3 linked regions of the Homo sapiens genome follow. The protein of the gene in region 3 interacts with the protein of the main gene of each other region in a biochemical or structural test. Each region holds a gene or a part of one and is shown on either strand. Other genes may lie near its edges.

The links. Proteins that work in one complex are often made in the same cells at the same time.
Region 1: the proteins of FGFR2 (region 3) and FGF5 interact in a test that uses a peptide from one of them, tested with the Homo sapiens proteins (one study listed by BioGRID).
Region 2: the proteins of FGFR2 (region 3) and CCN2 interact on a protein array, tested with the Homo sapiens proteins (one study listed by IntAct).

What each region holds. Positions count from the first base shown.
Region 1 is NC_000004.12:80,262,312-80,269,683, forward strand, and holds the start of FGF5 (fibroblast growth factor 5 isoform 1 precursor), read left to right. Parts: upstream 1-4,352; 5' UTR 4,353-4,513; coding exon 4,514-4,868; intron 4,869-5,956; exon of another isoform or gene 5,957-6,257; intron 6,258-7,372. UniProt on the Homo sapiens protein: Plays an important role in the regulation of cell proliferation and cell differentiation. Required for normal regulation of the hair growth cycle.
Region 2 is NC_000006.12:131,948,353-131,955,301, reverse strand, and holds the start of CCN2 (CCN family member 2 precursor), read left to right. Parts: upstream 1-3,929; 5' UTR 3,930-4,129; coding exon 4,130-4,195; intron 4,196-4,309; coding exon 4,310-4,532; intron 4,533-4,758; coding exon 4,759-5,010; intron 5,011-5,141; coding exon 5,142-5,353; intron 5,354-5,741; coding exon 5,742-6,038; 3' UTR 6,039-6,949. UniProt on the Homo sapiens protein: Major connective tissue mitoattractant secreted by vascular endothelial cells. Promotes proliferation and differentiation of chondrocytes. Is involved in the stimulation of osteoblast differentiation and has a critical role in osteogenesis.
Region 3 is NC_000010.11:121,497,437-121,504,458, forward strand, and holds part of FGFR2 (fibroblast growth factor receptor 2 isoform 1 precursor), read right to left. Parts: intron 6,506-7,022; coding exon 6,354-6,505; intron 3,512-6,353; coding exon 3,390-3,511; intron 1,170-3,389; coding exon 1,059-1,169; intron 1-1,058. UniProt on the Homo sapiens protein: Tyrosine-protein kinase that acts as a cell-surface receptor for fibroblast growth factors and plays an essential role in the regulation of cell proliferation, differentiation, migration and apoptosis, and in the regulation of embryonic development.

The DNA of each region.
Region 1 (7,372 bases), on a different chromosome or scaffold from region 3:
GGCTTGGGCTGCTATAACAAGACAACCATGGACAGAATGGTTTAAACAACAAACATATTTCTCATGGTTCTGGAGGTTGGGAAGTCTGCGATCAGGGTGCCAGCATGGAGGGACTCCTTCCTTGTTTCCTCATTTGAGGGATTGGGGTTGTGAGAGGAAGAAAGCTCTCTCCTCTTTTTATAAGGGGGAGGCAGAGGGGCATGCACTAATCCCACCTCATGACCTGATTAACTTCCAAAGCCCCATATCCAAATACTATCACATAAAAGAACAGAGTTTTAACTTGAATTTTGGGTACCCAAACATTCAGTCCATAGCAGTCTCTACTAAAAAGTGTATGCAATTAGAGGCCACTGTGGGGCTCCCAGGACCTGATTAACAAAAGATAGTACTATCTGGGTATAGCCTGAGAGTATGAAAGGGTGATAGGAATATAGAGTTGGGTAGGGGTGGGGTGCAGAGGCTTTTGGGACCATGTTTGAAACAGCTATCCCAGGAAAGCATTCTAAAAATCCTTGGGTTTTCTTTGGATCAAACAAAGAAAATTTGGCCTTGCCTTCAAACTGTACAGTCATCTTAAAGCTCAGAACAGGCAAATTTCTCATGGCACCTGCACCTCCAGGAGTGGAGATTTTGGGGTAACTGAGGCTCTTGGAACAGAAGTCTGTGTAAGATCAGCCTGGCACAGTGGCAGCCTGGTTCCTGGGTCAGACAGCCTCCCAGGACAGTGGCTTGCATTGCCAGGGTTGTTCATTCTATTCCATCATCTATCTCTTGTCCGTCCTTCCAACCCAGCATGAGACATTGTAGGATGAACAGTCTTGCCTTCAGGACCCTTGCCTCAGTGAGGCCTGGCCTCAGTTTAAACCCAGGGGAATGTTGTAAATATTGAGACGGTCTCTAGAGTGAAGGAAATATTGGGCTCTGACTTGACTTATACACCCTGACTTCTCTTTTCTTAGGCTTCTGGGTTCCAACCAGAGGTTACCGGTAACTTTATCTTCTTTTGCATTGATTTCTGTCTCTAGTAACCAGATCACACTTGTAGTTACGAAAGGGATAGGGGAAATTCACCACCAGTTTTCCACACAGAAATAGGGGAGGCCTGGAAAGAAAGTTCAGATGCTGGGGTCCAGGAAAAGTGACCCTGAGGGGGTTGGTCTAGGAAATGTGAGGCCTAGTGGGGTGAGACACCGCTGAAAGAGAGCTCAAGAAGAGGGGGTGGGGACCTAAGCCGAAGCCCGCGCACTCACTGCCTGGCGCCTAGGTGACTGGTGGAATCTGCTAATCTGTTGGGTAGTTTTTCCGTCGTCTGTCAGGTGGCGATGAGTGGAAACTAATCTTCGGGGCCGTTTGTTTTACCTCTGCAGGAAGCAGGGCGCTTGCGCCTTCTCCCAACCTTGCTTTCCTGGCTGGGAGAACGCAGGAATTGGAGAACTGAGCTGTGGGCTCGAATCCGCGCATGACCTGGAGATCTGGACCAAGCTCCGAGGCTTAATGGGGAAAGCTGAGATGTCCCCAGCAGGGGGCTTTGGGCGATTAACTTTTCGGAAAGTCGCCAGAGAAAGTGTGGTGCAGGCTTGCGCTCTTTTGGGTGGAGTTCACAGGAGTAGGGCTCGAGGTAGCCAAAACAGTAAATTGAGATAGCTCCCCGCCCCACATTCCCCACTGCAGAATTGCTGTGGACAGAGGCTCTCGAAGATCGGCTGCTCAGAGTGGTAGGCAGGATGTAGACCAGGGCGGGCGCAGCCCTGGCGCATAGCGCGACCCTTTCGTCTCTCAGCTGAGCTGCGGAGGAAGGGGGCTTGGCAGCTCAGCTCACGGAACAAGCGCAGTGCTGTCTTTCATGTTTCACTGTTCAGTTTTTGTAGCTTTTTTTAATGGCCCCAATACATAACTCTCTTGTGAAAAAAAAAGTTTAATAGCATCCACCCTACACACTTATGATCACCAATGGAGATTTCCTTTTAAGCCCCGAGTATGTGGGCACATTCGGCTGCCCGCCCAACCCCCAATCCTCCCACCCCAGTATGGAAGACAGTCGGGCGTTGAGGACTGGTTTGCCAAATTCAATCACTGTCCACAACAGCTGGTCACTTGTCTCCTTTTAGTGAGCCCCTGACTCTTTCTAAGCCCTTGGAATCCAGAAAAGTGTATCTTGCCATCCTCCAGTTTGAGGTAGACTAAAGCCTGAGCAGGTGTCTTTGCCTTCCTGGGTCATCCCTAGGCAAGGATTTGATCCCCAGTTTGGCTCTTGCGGGAGTTGAGAGGGAAACAAGGATGGTTGTTTCAGTGCAGGCGGGGCTGCAGAAACTGAGAGAAGGGAGCAAAGACAAGAGGCTGATAACAGCTCCAGAAACTGGACTCCAGAGTCCTCTTGACCTCCTGGGTTTAGACAGGGGGCTGATAGTGCAGCTGGGGCAGGAACCACTCTCCTCCTCTTTCAGCAGACTCCTTGGGAAAAGGAAAGGGAGAAACAAGCAGCTGGATTTGCTTTGGAGAATCTTCGTCACTTGAGGAATGGGCTGTGTATTTGCGTGGCATGGGGGAACTTACAAATGGCATTCAGCAGCATCAATGTGGCTTAAACCCTGACAGCTTTGCCACAGACCTCAGGGCATTGCCTGAAGAAGGAACAGCACCCAGGTTCAGAACCATCCTACAATCATCCTCCCCAGAAGAAGGTGATTTCAGTCAAGTAGACCATTCTGAGAGATACTGTGACTGTTCTCAATGTCTACTTTTAGGGTTGCCTTGTAAGGATCTGCCTACCCACCCTAGTTAAGGGAGAAGTATATAACTTGAGCCTAGAACAGTGGACAGGGGGTGTGTTCAGCTCTGGACAGTATCTCATGTAGTGTGCCCATGTTATGCACATCTATGTGTGATGTCCTCTTTCTTTATCACAGTGGTTTTACTACACTTTCCAGGTAACCTTCTGTTTTACAAGTACTTTGATGTTACTCTGGCGGTGGAAGATTCCAAACCTGAAAAATCTGCATTGTTTTATATGCGTTTCATTATTGAGATGGAAAACCTTAAGTAGGTACTCAATAATGGGTAAGGCCGTTTCTTAGCTTCAACCTTGGTTCATCTGAATTGACCTTATCAGTCAATAGCACGGGCCGTTTCATTAAAATAACCAATGAATAATGTATCATAGCTTAGTTTAAAGTTTCAAATATGTTTTTAGACAGAAACATTCCAAGCATGCAAGTCAGGTGTATTTCCCAGATAAATAACAGTCTGGGGACGTTGCCCGTACAGGGAAATTCTCTGTTCTCAAGGAAATTTTCCCTTCTCGGGTTTCCTGAGGTTGAAATCCAGCGCGCACGTCATTAATCATTCACTGAGGTCGGTCCCTCAGTCAATGGCAGGTCTGGGTAAGCTAAAGCGAGCAGTTAGCTAACCCTTCCTGCCACGGGGATCCTGGGGCGAAAGAGGACAACTGGGCGGTCAGTTACATGTGCTGGTGTCCAGCCGCTGCCTCTCTTTCCCCGGTCGGAGCGCGGGGGTGCGTGTGCCCTCACTCTCACGAATACAGACGGAGAGCTTCCCAGAAGGAAAAACAAATTCGTCATAATGTTCAGCGCAGCCGAGAGTTTCCAACAAGAAAGCAGCTCCAGTCGTGGCATGATGACTCAGGGTGGCGTTTTAAACGCTGAATAAACCCATTCCTTAGCTCTTTAATAAATCGCTAATAACAGCAAAAACAGCCTTCTCCCCGAACCGCGCCACACCAAAGGCTTCCCAAGTTGGGCTGCGAATCCCTGTTTGGTTTTCCAACGCCGAAAGACGTAGAAGCAGTGGGATCTCCTGGTGGGACGCATTTCTCCAAGGGCTCCCAGAGAGAGGACGAGATAGCAGGGTTTACAGGGCAAAGAGAGGAGAACCTGGAAATCGTGTCCTGGGGGGCAAGAGTGCGTTGCCCAGTCACAAGTGTGCTGTAGAGGTGGGAGAGGACAAGGACCCATTTCCACATTTCAACCCTCCGTTTCTATCGCTGCCCCTGGAGGACTCAGCTGCTAACGCCGAGCTCGTTTCCACGCGGCTCTGGTCCTAGTCGGGGAATCCGGGTGGCCGCGCGACGCGAGAGAACTGCTGGGATGCGTGGCCCTGGTATGGGCGCACCCAGCGTCCGGGGCGCAGGTTCTCTCAGCCCAGCTTCTCCTCCCACTCACTCGCTCGGATCTCCTCCCTCCTTCACATCCCCCGCCCCCGGGACCGCGAGGCTCCCTCCCCGCACCGGCCAGTGAGTACACAAAGCCGCGGGTGAGGGGAAGCTTCGCAGGCGTGCACGGAGCAGTGAGATCACTGGCGTTATAAATATCCCGGTGCCAGCGCGGAGATCCGCTCGGGTGGCCTCTCTCTTCCCCTCTCCCCTTCTCTTCCCCGAGGCTATGTCCACCCGGTGCGGCGAGGCGGGCAGAGCCAGAGGCACGCAGCCGCACAGGGGCTACAGAGCCCAGAATCAGCCCTACAAGATGCACTTAGGACCCCCGCGGCTGGAAGAATGAGCTTGTCCTTCCTCCTCCTCCTCTTCTTCAGCCACCTGATCCTCAGCGCCTGGGCTCACGGGGAGAAGCGTCTCGCCCCCAAAGGGCAACCCGGACCCGCTGCCACTGATAGGAACCCTAGAGGCTCCAGCAGCAGACAGAGCAGCAGTAGCGCTATGTCTTCCTCTTCTGCCTCCTCCTCCCCCGCAGCTTCTCTGGGCAGCCAAGGAAGTGGCTTGGAGCAGAGCAGTTTCCAGTGGAGCCCCTCGGGGCGCCGGACCGGCAGCCTCTACTGCAGAGTGGGCATCGGTTTCCATCTGCAGATCTACCCGGATGGCAAAGTCAATGGATCCCACGAAGCCAATATGTTAAGTAAGTTACTCGCTCTCCTACAAAACCCGTCCTAGGCGGCCGCGGAAGATTCGGGAGGGACAGCAGGTATTCGCCGGGACACAGGCTCACCTTCCTGAGCCCAGGCCACTGGGACCAAGCTGATACTCAGAAACAGCCGGGCGGGTTGGGTGGAGATGCATCTATATGGCGTGCGCACACGCACCCCTCTCCTGGGCATGAGGAATTGCGATTTCTCAGGTGTATGTTACCTAGAGGCTGGTGCCCAGACGGGTACCTTGTTTTCAGTTTGCTCTAGCCTCAAAGACGAGTCCCCAGCCATGACAGGAGAGAACAAAAAACTCATTTCTTCTCACTCAATTTGTTTACCTTCTGCTTATGAACTAGCCTGGCATTTTTCATTAGGCATCAAAGGCAGCCCTTCTCCCTATCCATAACTGAAGTTATTTTTTGAAAAGAAGAATCAAATCCCAAATACTTCCCTCTTCCATCCGCTACCATAAACCTCAAATTAATATTGTATATGTATATGTATATATGTATATAAGTCTATGTATACAATGTATACACATAGGTAGATAGATAGATAGATAGATAGATACACAGATAGATAGACAGACAGATAGATAACTAGGGGACACCAGACAGACATTCCTGCTTGGAAGAAGATTGTGCTCTAGAAAACTGGACGCGTTTAGAGAGGGAGACATGATAAACATTGAAATTACTAACTCCAGAGTTGGATTTAACAATGTTTAGTATCTTGAGACCATGACTACACCGTATTAGGAGAGTGGCCAGCCTTTGGTCCCCAAGAACAGTTAGGGGAAAGTTCCTTATTTTAGAAGAAACGCAGAGGTTAAATTTGGTAGGGGTGCAGATTTTGTAGGACTTTTTATAAACAAAGTTTTAAATTTTCCCTCTGAGTTTTTTCTTTCAGCACGCTCTCTTTTTTCCTTTCTCATCTCCTCTTCCCTTCCACCCCATCTATGTTTCCAGACCATCGCAGCCACTCCTCTGGTTTCTCTTCACTGCCTCTAGGCAGCTGGGGGCAGGGACGGTTTGGGGCTGTGAGTAGGAGTGGGGAGATCTCTGTGGGGCTTTTGCTCAGTAGGGCCAGATCGCTCTTCCAGCGCGGGTTGGTCCACCAGGCAGAGCCCCAGCCAGGGCCTGTCAGGTACCCAGGGAGACCGGAAATGTAGCCAGGAGACAGCAGCGCTCACAGTCACCTGGTTTCAGTGTCAGCCTGGTTGCTCCTAGATGTTCCTAACTTGCTCCATCTCAGACCAAAGACTCCACGGGCCATTGGGCTCCTTCTTACACAGGCTCCAGAGGAGCGTGGACACCACCGGCGGTCTGAAGATTTGGCAGCCAGCAGTCTCCAGAGGGGGGTCGGAGGCGCGCAAGTGGGTAAGGCGGTAGGCTGGCTAGCCTCCTCCGGTGGGTTAAGGGGGCCTAATGCGGAAGACCTGATGGTTCATGCTGAGAGAAAAGCAGGTCTATGCCCGCCCCTCTGCGCCTGTCTAGTCTATCTGATCGCGCTGATTCAGCAGCCTGCGGCGCACGTGGTGAGGGCGCCTGGAGCGCCCAGCTGGAGAGAGGGCCCTCCGCACACGCACCAGCGAGTCCCAGGGCCTCCCTCACACTCCCGAGAGGAATCTATTTCCATATTTTAGAGTTTATTTCACTCATCGAATAACTGCTCATTTGGGGGATAAAGGGCAAGATCTGTTGGGGTGAAATGGAATTTTCTGAGATTTGAGGAATAATCAGTAACATCTATTTATTTCCATTCGTCCTTCTCATTTTGTCTCAACGGTCTTTTGACTCCATCAGCCATCACAGCTTATTCCCACTTCCGGCAACCTTTCCTTCTCTCTTACAAGAAAACTTTCTTTCTTCTGTTCTTCTTGTAACGACCCGTGGAGTCATTGGTCTGAGATGGAGCAAGTTAGGAACATCTAGGAGCAACCAGGCTGACACTGAAAGACAGGTGACTGTGCGCGCTGCTGTCTCCTGGCTATGTTTCCACTCTCCCTGGGTACATGACAGAGCACCAACAGAGGATAACTTCCGTGAGCTCAAGGGCGGACCCCAAACTAGCAGGCAGCAAGCAGCAGGTTGGAGCCCAGGGAGCTCAGAGAATGCTTCTGGGGAGGGTTTAGGTGTGCTAGAGATCTCAGAAAGCAAGGCTCATTCCCAGGATATTCACCATCTTCTCTACGAAGACACTATATGAGACGAAGGTAGTTTTACAGCTTAGGCCTTGCTAGAGGGGGTGTTGTAGAAAAGCAAAGGGGGGAAAATAAGAGCAGATCAAAAAGAGTGCACCCAGATAAACAAGACATTGACCACTACCCAGTATGTAACATGTACATTTTCTTTTAAAATCCATGTTGAAAGATATCTACAAGAGAACAGGGATGTTTCCTAAAACAGTGCCGACAAAAAGCTTAATTTAAACTTTTTCCTAATTTATTCTTGTTTACAATAACCTTTCAGAGTTTAGTTTCTGTGTCTTTCAC
Region 2 (6,949 bases), on a different chromosome or scaffold from region 3:
GTCAGAGAACTAATTATAAGGAGGAAAAGGCATGAAGGTAATGAATGTAATTTAGATAGTAAACATCCGCGTTTATCTTCCCCGCCATGAACTCCCAGCAAGTACGCCCTCTCCTTAACCTTCATCTTAAGCAAACAGGAGGTCATGTCAGCCAAACCAGGGTCCCTGAAGATTTCAGAATAATATTTATTACTATTTTACAAAAGGCTTCTGGGATACCATTTTTTTTTGTAGAATTAATTTACATGATTGAATTTGAGGCACGCTAGAAACATCAGAAACCTCCCCCTGACCCACCATAAGGACAAATCGCTCACTGTCCAGATGCCCATATACGGCCAGACTTCCTCCTATAAGTCTGACAGCTCCGTGTATGCATTGCGTATGGGTCTTGGCTCTGAGTCACATTCCTCCGGCATGTTTCCCTGGGAGCTTTGATTTCCGCTTTGAGGGCTGGCACTGACTCCTACTTGCTCTTATAAGAAAATGTCTACAACTAAAAGTTGAAAATGTGCAAGATTCCTTCTTTAAGTACACAAACACTCCAACTCTGGCCACTTTTCTGTAGTCCTGCCAGGTTTTCTCTGTGTCTGATACCTGATCAAGAAACCTTTTTTTTTTAGGGAGGAAAAAACAACAAAAAACTTAAGGGAAGGAATGTAATACATCCACAGCTGAACATCTTACAAGACTTAACCAAACGACCAGTACAAATGATGCCCTAGTAGACACACACACATACCTTATATAGCTTGGTAAACAGGACTCAGTGGCCAGCTTAGTTAATTCCTCATTTTACCACGAGGAAAAAATGCTCTCTAAAAAGCATTTGCTAGATAAATACTTGCTTACAAGTCAAAATTAGTGCATCTTAACCATTTTGCACACAAATTCAAAGATCTTTTTCTCCCAACTCTGACCTGCTGTCAATCAAAGGGGCTGGGGTAAGTCAAAGTTGGATGAAGTTATAAGAAGCCACTATTTCCCACTTTACCGCCCAGGCACACACAAACATTTGCTGAGTCATTGATAATAGTGCAAGAATTCAGATCCCATGGCATGAATTATGGATGGAGTATCAGCCTTTCCCTTTGAGTTTCCTGGCATTTGATGGTCCATATCACAATAAAAACATACTTCTGAGTCTGTGAATGTCTTGGGTGTCTTCTCTCATTCTCTCTCTCTCTGGGTGTGTGTGCATGTATGTGTCTGTCTGTCTCTGTGTCACTCTCTTAATAATAGTCTTTTAACTCCTTCAAAAAGAGTTTTGATCATAAAGCCTCAATCTAACCTGATAATGCACAGAAACTTTTTCTTTCCTGAGATTTCATATGTTCTATATATTTCAATATGCTTATTTCCTCTTAAGCAACATTAAAATCATCTATTTGGAACTGACTATAGATTTTTTTGAGACTTCGAGGGACTATGAGAATTTTATAGTAAAACCAAATTCTTTCTTTTGACATTTTTAACAACAGAGCAGAATGGTAATATACTTATTATACACAGAGATTGAAAAAAAATCAAGAAAATCTGAAAAAAATAAAGCACCAATTCCCTGGAATTTTCATCTACTCAGCCCTCACTGAACCCTATTAAATTAAAAAAATTATGATTACTTTCATTTTTTAAACAGAAATGGGAATATGGCTCCTACGTGTGACTTCCCTGAGATCTGCGAAAGGCAGTTCCAAGAATACAACCTAGGCCATCTAACTATAACCCAGTACAACAATTTATCCCCTCCATGAATGAGTCTCCCTGCTGCAGGCATGAAGATGGTGGTAGCTTTCAGACTCTCCTGAGGATTCAGAAATTCCCCAACCCTTCTCCCACCTACCTCACTCTGCAAGCTAGGAGAGCTCACCACCAAGCCCACATCCCACCTTAGGTGAGACTCGCACTGCACATCCCTACCCTTCCCCAGCCACCACACCTTTCCAACCATTAGAGGTAGATGTAATTGGGGGTTTAGGTCTTGAAAGGTTTCACTGTGGCTTCCCACATATTTTGGACTTTTAAAATCATCCACAAGGGAAGAAAAAGTTGAGGGCCAAGTTGCCTTTAATACACATGTGGCTATTAAGTTAACTTGGAATGTTCCTTCTTTAAATAGGAACTCTTAGGCCTCTTCTTTTTGAGGAATGCTTGGAAAGGACATTAAATAACAATGACGAAAATTCTTCCTGAGCTTCAGAGGGCACCCCCACCCCTTTGCTGGCCATTCACACTATTGACATGCAACTACACTCTATAACATGTGGCTGGCTTAACGAGGTAATCGTGCACAGATGATATGCTCTATGCTGAAGTTGGAGTGGTTATATTTCTTCTTGGCTATTTTTCAACAGACTGTACTGAAACTTTAAAAATTTGATCAGTTTAAACAGGCTGTTTTCAAATGATAAATCTATAATGCATTGTTTCTAAAGCCGATCTTTGCACCACAAACAGATATGCTTATCTTGAACCCATGCTCTGAAGCATCAACAACTTAAAGGAATCTACTCATTGGTAACACCAATGTCAAATGATGCGGCATTACAGAATACAAAAATGGTATGGCCCTAGAATCACTCTCTTTATATAAAATGGGAACTGGAGGTATTAACAAAAAAGCCACTAAACAACATAGATTCCAAATGAAAGCACAGTGAATTAGTTGGGTCTTTAGTGAAGCTAAGTAGCACTATATTAAGAAATGGAGATATGCTTAGGTTTATTGGCCATATTCAACATCTGCACACACCCAGGGAGAATAAAGCCTATTCTTTCCTTGTCCTGACCTCACTCCCTCAGGCTGCATGTTCCTTGGGTAATGAGAAGTCACAATCACTATTCATAGATGTGTGGGGAGTCACTAAAAATATATTATTCACTGTCAATCTTAGTTTATATCCAGATACAACAGGGTACACTGCTCTTGTAATGGAATCAGACTTCTTATTTTAACAAGACAAACCAAATCCAATCCACATTTGAAGATTATAGGTTTTAATATAAGAAAATGCACTCATTTCTCAAAGACCCTAGTGAAGCTGTGTTTAAATGCTCCTAGGTGAACCCCCTTTGCATCCCAGTGTTCCCACCCTGACACCCAGAGCCCCTACCTACCCAACACAGAATCATTTGCTCTGATAGAACAATGGATCCCTTTTTCTGGAAACATTGATGGCCACTCCTCCCTTGTCCTTGCCTATATAAAACTCCTACATATATTAAGAGAAAACTAAGCAAGAGTTTTGGAAATCTGCCCCAGGAGACTGCATCCTGAGTCACACGCGTCTTTGTTCTCTTTCTTGTCCCAAAACCGTTACCTCAAGTGACAAATGATCAAATCTCAAATATAGAATTCAGGGTTTTACAGGTAGGCATCTTGAGGATTTCAAATGGTTAAAAGCAACTCACTCCTTTTCTACTCTTTGGAGAGTTTCAAGAGCCTATAGCCTCTAAAACGCAAATCATTGCTAAGGGTTGGGGGGGAGAAACCTTTTCGAATTTTTTAGGAATTCCTGCTGTTTGCCTCTTCAGCTACCTACTTCCTAAAAAGGATGTATGTCAGTGGACAGAACAGGGCAAACTTATTCGAAAAAGAAATAAGAAATAATTGCCAGTGTGTTTATAAATGATATGAATCAGGAGTGGTGCGAAGAGGATAGGGAAAAAAAAATTCTATTTGGTGCTGGAAATACTGCGCTTTTTTTTTTCCTTTTTTTTTTTTTCTGTGAGCTGGAGTGTGCCAGCTTTTTCAGACGGAGGAATGCTGAGTGTCAAGGGGTCAGGATCAATCCGGTGTGAGTTGATGAGGCAGGAAGGTGGGGAGGAATGCGAGGAATGTCCCTGTTTGTGTAGGACTCCATTCAGCTCATTGGCGAGCCGCGGCCGCCCGGAGCGTATAAAAGCCTCGGGCCGCCCGCCCCAAACTCACACAACAACTCTTCCCCGCTGAGAGGAGACAGCCAGTGCGACTCCACCCTCCAGCTCGACGGCAGCCGCCCCGGCCGACAGCCCCGAGACGACAGCCCGGCGCGTCCCGGTCCCCACCTCCGACCACCGCCAGCGCTCCAGGCCCCGCCGCTCCCCGCTCGCCGCCACCGCGCCCTCCGCTCCGCCCGCAGTGCCAACCATGACCGCCGCCAGTATGGGCCCCGTCCGCGTCGCCTTCGTGGTCCTCCTCGCCCTCTGCAGCCGGGTAAGCGCCGGGAGCCCCCGCTGCGGCCGGCGGCTGCCAGGGAGGGACTCGGGGCCGGCCGGGGAGGGCGTGCGCGCCGACCGAGCGCCGCTGACCGCCCTGTCCTCCCTGCAGCCGGCCGTCGGCCAGAACTGCAGCGGGCCGTGCCGGTGCCCGGACGAGCCGGCGCCGCGCTGCCCGGCGGGCGTGAGCCTCGTGCTGGACGGCTGCGGCTGCTGCCGCGTCTGCGCCAAGCAGCTGGGCGAGCTGTGCACCGAGCGCGACCCATGCGACCCGCACAAGGGCCTATTCTGTCACTTCGGCTCCCCGGCCAACCGCAAGATCGGCGTGTGCACCGGTAAGACCCGCAGCCCCCACCGCTAGGTGTCCGGCCGCCTCCTCCCTCACGCCCACCCGCCCGCTGGAAAAAGAAACCGCTCGGACTGAGTTTCTTTCTCCAGCTGCTGCCAGCCCGCCCCCTGCAGCCCAGATCCCAACTCGCATCCCTGACGCTCTGGATGTGAGAGTGCCCCAATGCCTGACCTCTGCATCCCCCACCCCTCTCTTCCCTTCCTCTTCTCCAGCCAAAGATGGTGCTCCCTGCATCTTCGGTGGTACGGTGTACCGCAGCGGAGAGTCCTTCCAGAGCAGCTGCAAGTACCAGTGCACGTGCCTGGACGGGGCGGTGGGCTGCATGCCCCTGTGCAGCATGGACGTTCGTCTGCCCAGCCCTGACTGCCCCTTCCCGAGGAGGGTCAAGCTGCCCGGGAAATGCTGCGAGGAGTGGGTGTGTGACGAGCCCAAGGACCAAACCGTGGTTGGGCCTGCCCTCGCGGGTGAGTCGAGTCTTCCTCTAAGTCAGGGTCGTGATTCTCTCCCAGGGAGGGAGTCCTAACTGTGCCGACCGAACGGGGGAAATACCTTATCCAGGCGTTTTACATGGTGTTTGTGTGCTCTGCTCTCGCAGCTTACCGACTGGAAGACACGTTTGGCCCAGACCCAACTATGATTAGAGCCAACTGCCTGGTCCAGACCACAGAGTGGAGCGCCTGTTCCAAGACCTGTGGGATGGGCATCTCCACCCGGGTTACCAATGACAACGCCTCCTGCAGGCTAGAGAAGCAGAGCCGCCTGTGCATGGTCAGGCCTTGCGAAGCTGACCTGGAAGAGAACATTAAGGTACATGTTCTGCTCCTATTAACTATTTTTCACAGGAAAAACAGTGGATAGGACCCAACTTAGGGCTCTTGCCACGCTTGTTAGTATAAGCCCGTTATCTCCAAAACTATCTAACCATTGAGCTGTTTTGCTGGAATGAGAGCTTGTGTAATAGCAACCACCAGTTTTCCACTACGAAATCTTCCACAGGGTTAGTTAATTCAAGACATTCCAAGAGAGGCTCTGGCTATTTTTGGACATAGCAAATGAGACTCAAACTTCCTCCCCTCAAAATATAAACAGAAGTCAGACAACAGAAGACTAAAACACAGAGGGTTGAAGAAAGCCACTCCTCTTGTAGAGTCGCTGATTTTTTTTTTTCCTCTCTCTTTTCCCTTGTCTTCCTTAGAAGGGCAAAAAGTGCATCCGTACTCCCAAAATCTCCAAGCCTATCAAGTTTGAGCTTTCTGGCTGCACCAGCATGAAGACATACCGAGCTAAATTCTGTGGAGTATGTACCGACGGCCGATGCTGCACCCCCCACAGAACCACCACCCTGCCGGTGGAGTTCAAGTGCCCTGACGGCGAGGTCATGAAGAAGAACATGATGTTCATCAAGACCTGTGCCTGCCATTACAACTGTCCCGGAGACAATGACATCTTTGAATCGCTGTACTACAGGAAGATGTACGGAGACATGGCATGAAGCCAGAGAGTGAGAGACATTAACTCATTAGACTGGAACTTGAACTGATTCACATCTCATTTTTCCGTAAAAATGATTTCAGTAGCACAAGTTATTTAAATCTGTTTTTCTAACTGGGGGAAAAGATTCCCACCCAATTCAAAACATTGTGCCATGTCAAACAAATAGTCTATCAACCCCAGACACTGGTTTGAAGAATGTTAAGACTTGACAGTGGAACTACATTAGTACACAGCACCAGAATGTATATTAAGGTGTGGCTTTAGGAGCAGTGGGAGGGTACCAGCAGAAAGGTTAGTATCATCAGATAGCATCTTATACGAGTAATATGCCTGCTATTTGAAGTGTAATTGAGAAGGAAAATTTTAGCGTGCTCACTGACCTGCCTGTAGCCCCAGTGACAGCTAGGATGTGCATTCTCCAGCCATCAAGAGACTGAGTCAAGTTGTTCCTTAAGTCAGAACAGCAGACTCAGCTCTGACATTCTGATTCGAATGACACTGTTCAGGAATCGGAATCCTGTCGATTAGACTGGACAGCTTGTGGCAAGTGAATTTGCCTGTAACAAGCCAGATTTTTTAAAATTTATATTGTAAATATTGTGTGTGTGTGTGTGTGTGTATATATATATATATGTACAGTTATCTAAGTTAATTTAAAGTTGTTTGTGCCTTTTTATTTTTGTTTTTAATGCTTTGATATTTCAATGTTAGCCTCAATTTCTGAACACCATAGGTAGAATGTAAAGCTTGTCTGATCGTTCAAAGCATGAAATGGATACTTATATGGAAATTCTGCTCAGATAGAATGACAGTCCGTCAAAACAGATTGTTTGCAAAGGGGAGGCATCAGTGTCCTTGGCAGGCTGATTTCTAGGTAGGAAATGTGGTAGCCTCACTTTTAATGAACAA
Region 3 (7,022 bases):
TTTACCCATACATTATCCTTTTGGAACCTGTTGGGCTTATAAAAACAAAACCAGATCATTCCTTTTCACAGCTGCATATACTGTATCGTATAAACACACCACACTTTATTTATCCATTCCCTTATATGCATAGGCATTTGCTTCCAGGTTTCAGCCATAACAAACAGTAGGCAATGAACATCTCTGTACATGTTCCCTTACACACGTGTGCAATAATTTCTCCATGGTATAGGCTCGGGGTTGGCAGACTACAGCCTGCAAGCCAAATCCTGCCTACCGCCTGTTTGGGTAATTAAATTTTATTGGCATGCAGCCAGGTCCATTCATTTCTGTACTTCTAGCACTGCTTTCTCACTACTATGGCAGACACGAGAAGTTGCGACAAAGACCATACGGCCCACAAAAGTCTAAAATATCTACGACCTCCCTTTACAGAAAAAGTTCACCAATTACTATATAGACCTACAAGAGAAATTGCTAAGTCAAAGATAGGCGTTTTCAAGTTTACTAATTACTTAGCAAATTGATTTCAAAGTGCCAGTAAACATTCAATGGAAGAAGCCAGGGTCTCTCTCCCCCAGGGAAAATAACGTATTCCTTCATACCGCTTTCTCCTCTTTTAAGCTATTCTTGGGAGCTCAGCCATCTGTGACCCACAGCAAGATGTGGATTCTTCAATCCCTGTTTTAAGGGAAGAACTTCTCAACCAAAACATAGGATCTTATTCTGACAAATCTCTCTTAGCACTTACAAAACAAAAACATAAGGAGGCTGCCTTTTCCAAAACCCCCTCCAGGTTATGACCTAGAAACAGCAGCGCCCTCTAGGCCCTCAAATCCAAAGTCACCTGCACCCTCCTTTCCACTGGCCCCCAGGTACGGGCACAGACCCTTCTTTGTGTTCATGGCTAGGAACATCTTCCAATGGGGATTTTAAAAAGAACTTTAAACATGCACACAGGGTGCTCTGGGAGCAGGATCTGGAAGCCCAGCCATTTCTAAAATGATTCAATCAAACTGCAGAGTATTTGGGCGAATGCAGTTTTTCCTCCTACTCACCATCCTGTGTGCAGGCTCCAAGAAGATTTATGATATTCTTGTGTTTCCCAATCATCTTCATCATCTCCATCTCTGACACCAGATCAGAAAGGTCTTTCTCTGTGGCATCATCTATGAACAGTAGGCATATTCACAAATCAGTTCATTTCCTCTAACTCATGGGCAGCTACTGTTAGTTGCCAAAGACTTAGTTGAAACAGCATGAAATTGAATTTCAGAATCAGAAAAGATTTTCCAAATCATCTCCCTCATTTTATCGAGGAAGGGACAAAGGCCTACACAGGGAACTGCCTCACTCTGTGTCAAAGAGCTCACTGGGGGGCCAATGGGGCCAAGAGTCAGGACGAGAGCAGGGGCTTCTGACACTAATGCCAATTCTTTCCTAGACCATGAGATAATCTCATCCTCTGCCATATCTAAGGCGTCTCAGAAAACCACACCAAACTTCATGGTGCCTGAAACCAGCGAGGAGACCGAGGGTAGGGCCATTTCAAATCACTACAGACTTGCTCCCGACCAAGCATTCTTAACCCAGCCCCTCGAGGCCCTTAGAGCGTTCCGAGGTGGGTTCAGACGGTTCCCCATAAACAGGGCCATAAACGTGTGTGCATGTGCATTCTGAGCAGGTAAAGGGCTGCGACTTCTAGTGGCTTCTCAGAGGGCACTGCAGTTCCCATCCTAAGAAAAGTTACATAAACTTCCGCTCTGTAATTTCAAGCAAGAATGGCACAGGTTCCACATACGCGGGCTCGCAGTTAGCTTCTCTTAGATTCTCCTAAGTGGCAAGACTTTCCCATGTGCCCTCCACCTCAAGCTAATTCAGTATGGAAAAATCTGGGTTTCCTTTAAAAAAAAAATGAAATATGGGCATGGATAAGAACCATGTTGCAAACAGTTTTTTAGCTTCACAAAAGGAAGATCAATACAAGTGACTGTGTGTGCAAAATTTACACTGATGTATGTGAAGGAGGGAGCCACGGGCCATGAGGAGGGAGGGAGACACAGCCGTGGGCTGTAAGAAAGGACACGCCACAATGGCTTGGGGACTAATATCCTTCTGTGTCCTTACAGGGAAGGCTGCCAGCCTGGGCATCACAAGAGAAAGAGAACTCCCAGACCTCCCTTTTTGCAATATCCCATGTAACTCTGAGCTCCATTAGCAAAACCAGAAGTTCCGCCAAAAGAGATGAGAAGCCTGGGTCCTCCCCACACCTGGCCCTGGTACGCAGCCAGGGGCTGCCTCAGTCAGTGGTGCCATGACACCTGGGGCAAGACAGCACAGTGTTCCTCCCCGGCATCAGGCTCCAAGGTGGGGAACATCTCAAAGCACTCTAGTTTTCCTTGGGAGTCACTCAGATAAACAGCCTTTTAAAAAACCCAAAAAACAAAATGCACATCTTGTTGACAAAGTCCAGCCTGCTACTTCCCCTTGGGAGGGATGTGATGACTATCCCATGAGAACCCACAAAAGAAAGACAAAGCCTAACTCCAGAGCGCCTGCGACATGCCCAGCACCATATCCCAAGGATGGGCCTCTCTGCCTGGAAACGTGGGAAACACTCGGCATGGGATCTTCTTTCCGAGATCCCTACAAGAGGATTTATAATGTGACAGTTCCCTATAACTCTTCTCATAAAAGAATACTGCAGGACGAATAAGTTAATGGTTAAAAGTTCTTTAAGTTCTTTGGACATGGGCATGAAGCAGGGTTGGAAGGTTAACGTAGAAGTGTTCACAGTCCCACAAACACAACACGACATTTACATCTCAGGGTAATTGTTTATGTGTCCCAGGAGGCTCTGCACCAGCCCTGATCCTGTTCACTCCTTCTCAGCTTCTAAGTGACTCTCCCAGACCAGTGTCATTTCTGCTTTGTTCCTCACGCAAAAGAGAAGGCTTTCTGCTCCCTTACGTCTCTTCGTTCCCTCCAAAAACACAAATTTTCTTGTACTTGTAAAGTTAAGGTTTAAGTCCCAAATCTAACACACCAACTCCTAGCTAATAAATTCAATTATATGTGAGTTGATAATTTCTAAGCACATAAAAATACAGAGAGAATGAAGAATTGTGGTCACGAAGAAGGAGTCAAAGAATAACTCTATGTAGGAGGCTACCGCTTTCTAACAAAACTGGCTTTTCTTTATAAGTACACACAGCTCAAGATAAATAGTCTGTCCGAGATGCTGATTTATACCGAAAACTTCTCAACCCCTAGGTCAACTATGTGCTCTCTGACCCCGTGCCATGATAGAGTTCACATGCCACAAAAGGAACTTTCTTGATAAGACTCTCCACCCAGCCCCTCCCCGAGCCTCCCGCCTCCCCGCTCACCTTTCAACATCTTCACGGCCACGGTGACCGCCTCCTTGGGCTTGTCTTTGTCAATTCCCACTGCTTCCGCCATGACCACTTGCCCAAAGCAACCTTCTCCCAGGGGCTTGCCCAGTGTCAGCCTAAATGTGTAAATAGGGGATTAGCACATAGCATCTGGTGATGGGGTGTAGTGAGGGAAATTCCAGAACTAAATATAAAAATCTTTCAGCGGCTTACTAAAGCATGGAGTGCTTATCATATGGAACTAATGAGACTTAGGGTACACACGCGCCTGAGTATTTTCCTAGTGACGTTTTAGAGAATGTCAATTACTGGTGGAACGGCTATTAAATTTCACATTGGTATTCTCGGTTTATTTTCTTTAGGGAAGGTATCCTTGCTAGTGCGGTGGTCAGCTTTCCTAAGTGCCAGAGAAGAGCTTTTGATCTTGAGCCAATTAAATATTTGTAATTTAGAATGGCTCAAAGAAAAAACGTTAAGACTGTTCTTATTTTTTTGTCCCTGTAAAATGGTGGCTTTAAAATTATTATTCAAATACCAATGGATTTTATGGTCACATTCCTTGCCAAGTTACAGGATATGCCTCTTAAAAGCATTTCAAGGAATCTCTAATTTTTTACTAAAAAGAAAATTCTAAAAAATTGGGGACTTTTTTTTTGACATAAGTTTAAAAGTCCTTATGACTACATAAAATTAACAATGAAGAAAATCCAAAGTGAACACCACAAATTAAATTTCTAAGATTACAAGGTCTATGCACATCGGACGAATAGCCATATATTGTCCTTGTGCATTCCAGAAACCAACAAAACGCAAAAGTCTTTGGAATACTTATGAATACGGCTCTTTCTAACTTAAGCATAACACAGCAAAGCATGGAGCTGCCATTAGTAAACAGTATTTAAGGTAAGTACACAATAGTTTGCAAAAGTGCAGCATAAAGACTAAGGGCAGCATGTGCTATGCTGAGGTCATTTTGTTTCTACCCAGAACGAAAATTAAATTTAACATCTTGGCAGAAAATAAATATTTGCATTGGAAAAATGGCTAATTTATGTCCCACCGCCTTGCTACTACAAGCATAACAATCCTTTCTTTGTATAACTTCTGCCTCCGATCTAATAAACTGCTTCTAAATAGCCTTCATTCATTGGAAATCTGTTCCACCTACGTTTGCGCTAAACACTGTTTTGAAATGTTTAGCACTCAGATTTTCCACACTCAGGGTACCCCGGGTGGGAGGTAACAGTTGGGCACATACAGACTTCCACTGTTGACTGTGGTGTCACAGGTGGCAAAAACTATGGACTAAACCCGAAAGCTGCAATTTCTTAAAATATGATCACAACTCCCCAGTTCAGTTATATATATAGGAATGTGCACATGAACCTATCTGTGTATATAATCACACACAAACTAGGGCTGGCGGAGTTCACAAGAAACATCCATTTCTCCACATCCTACAGGTAAAGAAACCATTCTTTGTGTTTTCTCTGGTGCCCCACCAGTAAATGTCCAATTAACATGCCTTGAGTGAATGAATAAGTGAATGAGTGAGTGGTCTTTTCACTACAGTATACAAATCAACTGGAAATTACTTCCATTAACACTCTAACCAAATAATATCCATACAATTATTCAGTCCTAGCTAACGGTACACATCTCTAAATTGGCACTTGGGAAACAAAACTGATGTGACATCACGTGAATCAAAATCAGAAGTGCCAGCCACATAAGCTACCTCTCCCTTCCAAATAGAGCTCATCAGATCAGTCTCTGGAAGAGCTTATCTTTGCATTTCCAAATGTGTATAGGTACACATGAGAAGTGTATATAATCTGAGGAGCTACTGAAAATGTCAAGGCAAACAGGGTAGCTGCTTATAAGCAAGTCAAGAGCTTATTCCAGTGTATGTGATGCAGAAGTAGTCAGCATTTCCACCTTCCCGTACTCTCAAGCTGTGACGACAAAAAGTACCCCAGAAGTGAGTGGACAGCCCTACAATGACCACTGCACTTCCTTTCATAAGGAGGATCTAGGGGTCGGTCCCTGCCTAGAGGACGAGGGCTAGGAGCTCAAATTCTGCCCACTGACTCCATGCCCCACACGATGATCCTGCTGAGGTTTGCAGTTCAGAGCTCCCAGGTTACCACCACGTGAAGGGAAATGAAAGGAAAACTCGCACAAGCCAAGAACTCTGCTCAGTCCTGGGAGGTCTGAACCACCACCCTCATTTTATGAGAATGAATTTCAGAGAATCAGGTGCCTCACCCGAGGTTGCCCAGCCACTGTCTGGCAAAGCCAGGATTCAAATGCAGCCCAACGGAGCTCCAGTACGTGGAGTTCAAGCGAGACCAAGAGATACGTAGCCCCAACACCACCCAGGTGGCCATATTTTGACTAAACATCTGATTGGCACACCTCTGTATCATCCAACAAGGAAAATATTATGGATCACAGAAATTAGATGTCAGGTACCATATTTGAAGCTTTTCAGCCCAATATGACATTAATAACCAATGAGAACAGCAACACTGGGTAGCGGTCCTTAAGGCCATTTATATTCTGCATCTAATTTCTCCACAGAAGTGAACAGAGAACAGTCTTGTTCTAGTAACCAAAAGCTAGAATGTCAGATCTGTTTTATAAATTGGATAATTCTACTTTTATTCCATTTGACGGAGTCTGAATTGCCCAGACACTTAAAAAATGATAACCAGATGCCATCTTCTTTGGGGACCAGCCAGGGGCAAGTAGCTCTGCTTTCAAGGAGTTATTTTTTTTTTTAAATCCATTTTTTTCTTTTCCAGGAGTTGGTTATTTAGAAATACAATCTTACTCCTGCTGACATCATCACACCAAGACCTTTGTGGCTAAGGGTCATAAAAAGAAAATGTTAATCCAATATCCCCATTTATAGCTGAGTCTCCATCCTGGGACATGGCCAAGAGAAGTACTCACTTATCTCTTGGAAACTCCCATTTTGGGTCCTCTGGAAGTTCATACTCGGAGACCCCTGCCAGCATGGGGGTGTCTGCCGTTGAAGAGAGGCGTGTTGTTATCCTCACCAGCGGGGTGTTGGAGTTCATGGAGGAGCTGGACTCAGCCGAAACCTGGATACAAAATGCAAAGACACAGATGTAATCCTGGCTCCATCTGAGAAGGCTGGAAGTCAGCCAGAGCCCAGCCAGAGTATCGAATCTTAGAAAGGAATGGGTTGGGGGCTGGCAGAAGTCAGAAACCAAATTAGAAAACCACTGGAATCTAACTCCTCTGCCCTCCAGTCCATGCAGTACCAGATTTCATCCAAATTTTATGTTCCTATGTTCAGGTTTTTCTATGAAATTTTTCTATACCATCTGATCACAATGTAAATTTTCTTTCTGTCCTAATTCCTCCAGAGAGTCACTTGAGGACATGCAGACAGTCCTCTCTGGCTTCATTAGTGCCTTTATGGTTGTACCTGCACCTGTACTGGAGCCCTGGATAATGGATCCCCTCTCAGACCACCCGGATCATGGATCAATGCTGTGCTTATGAAATTCTACGAAAACTTTTAGGAAATTGGCTCTACCATATTTCCTCTGTCTTTGGAAATGTAAAGTGGAATATCTCAAGGAAAGAGTTCTA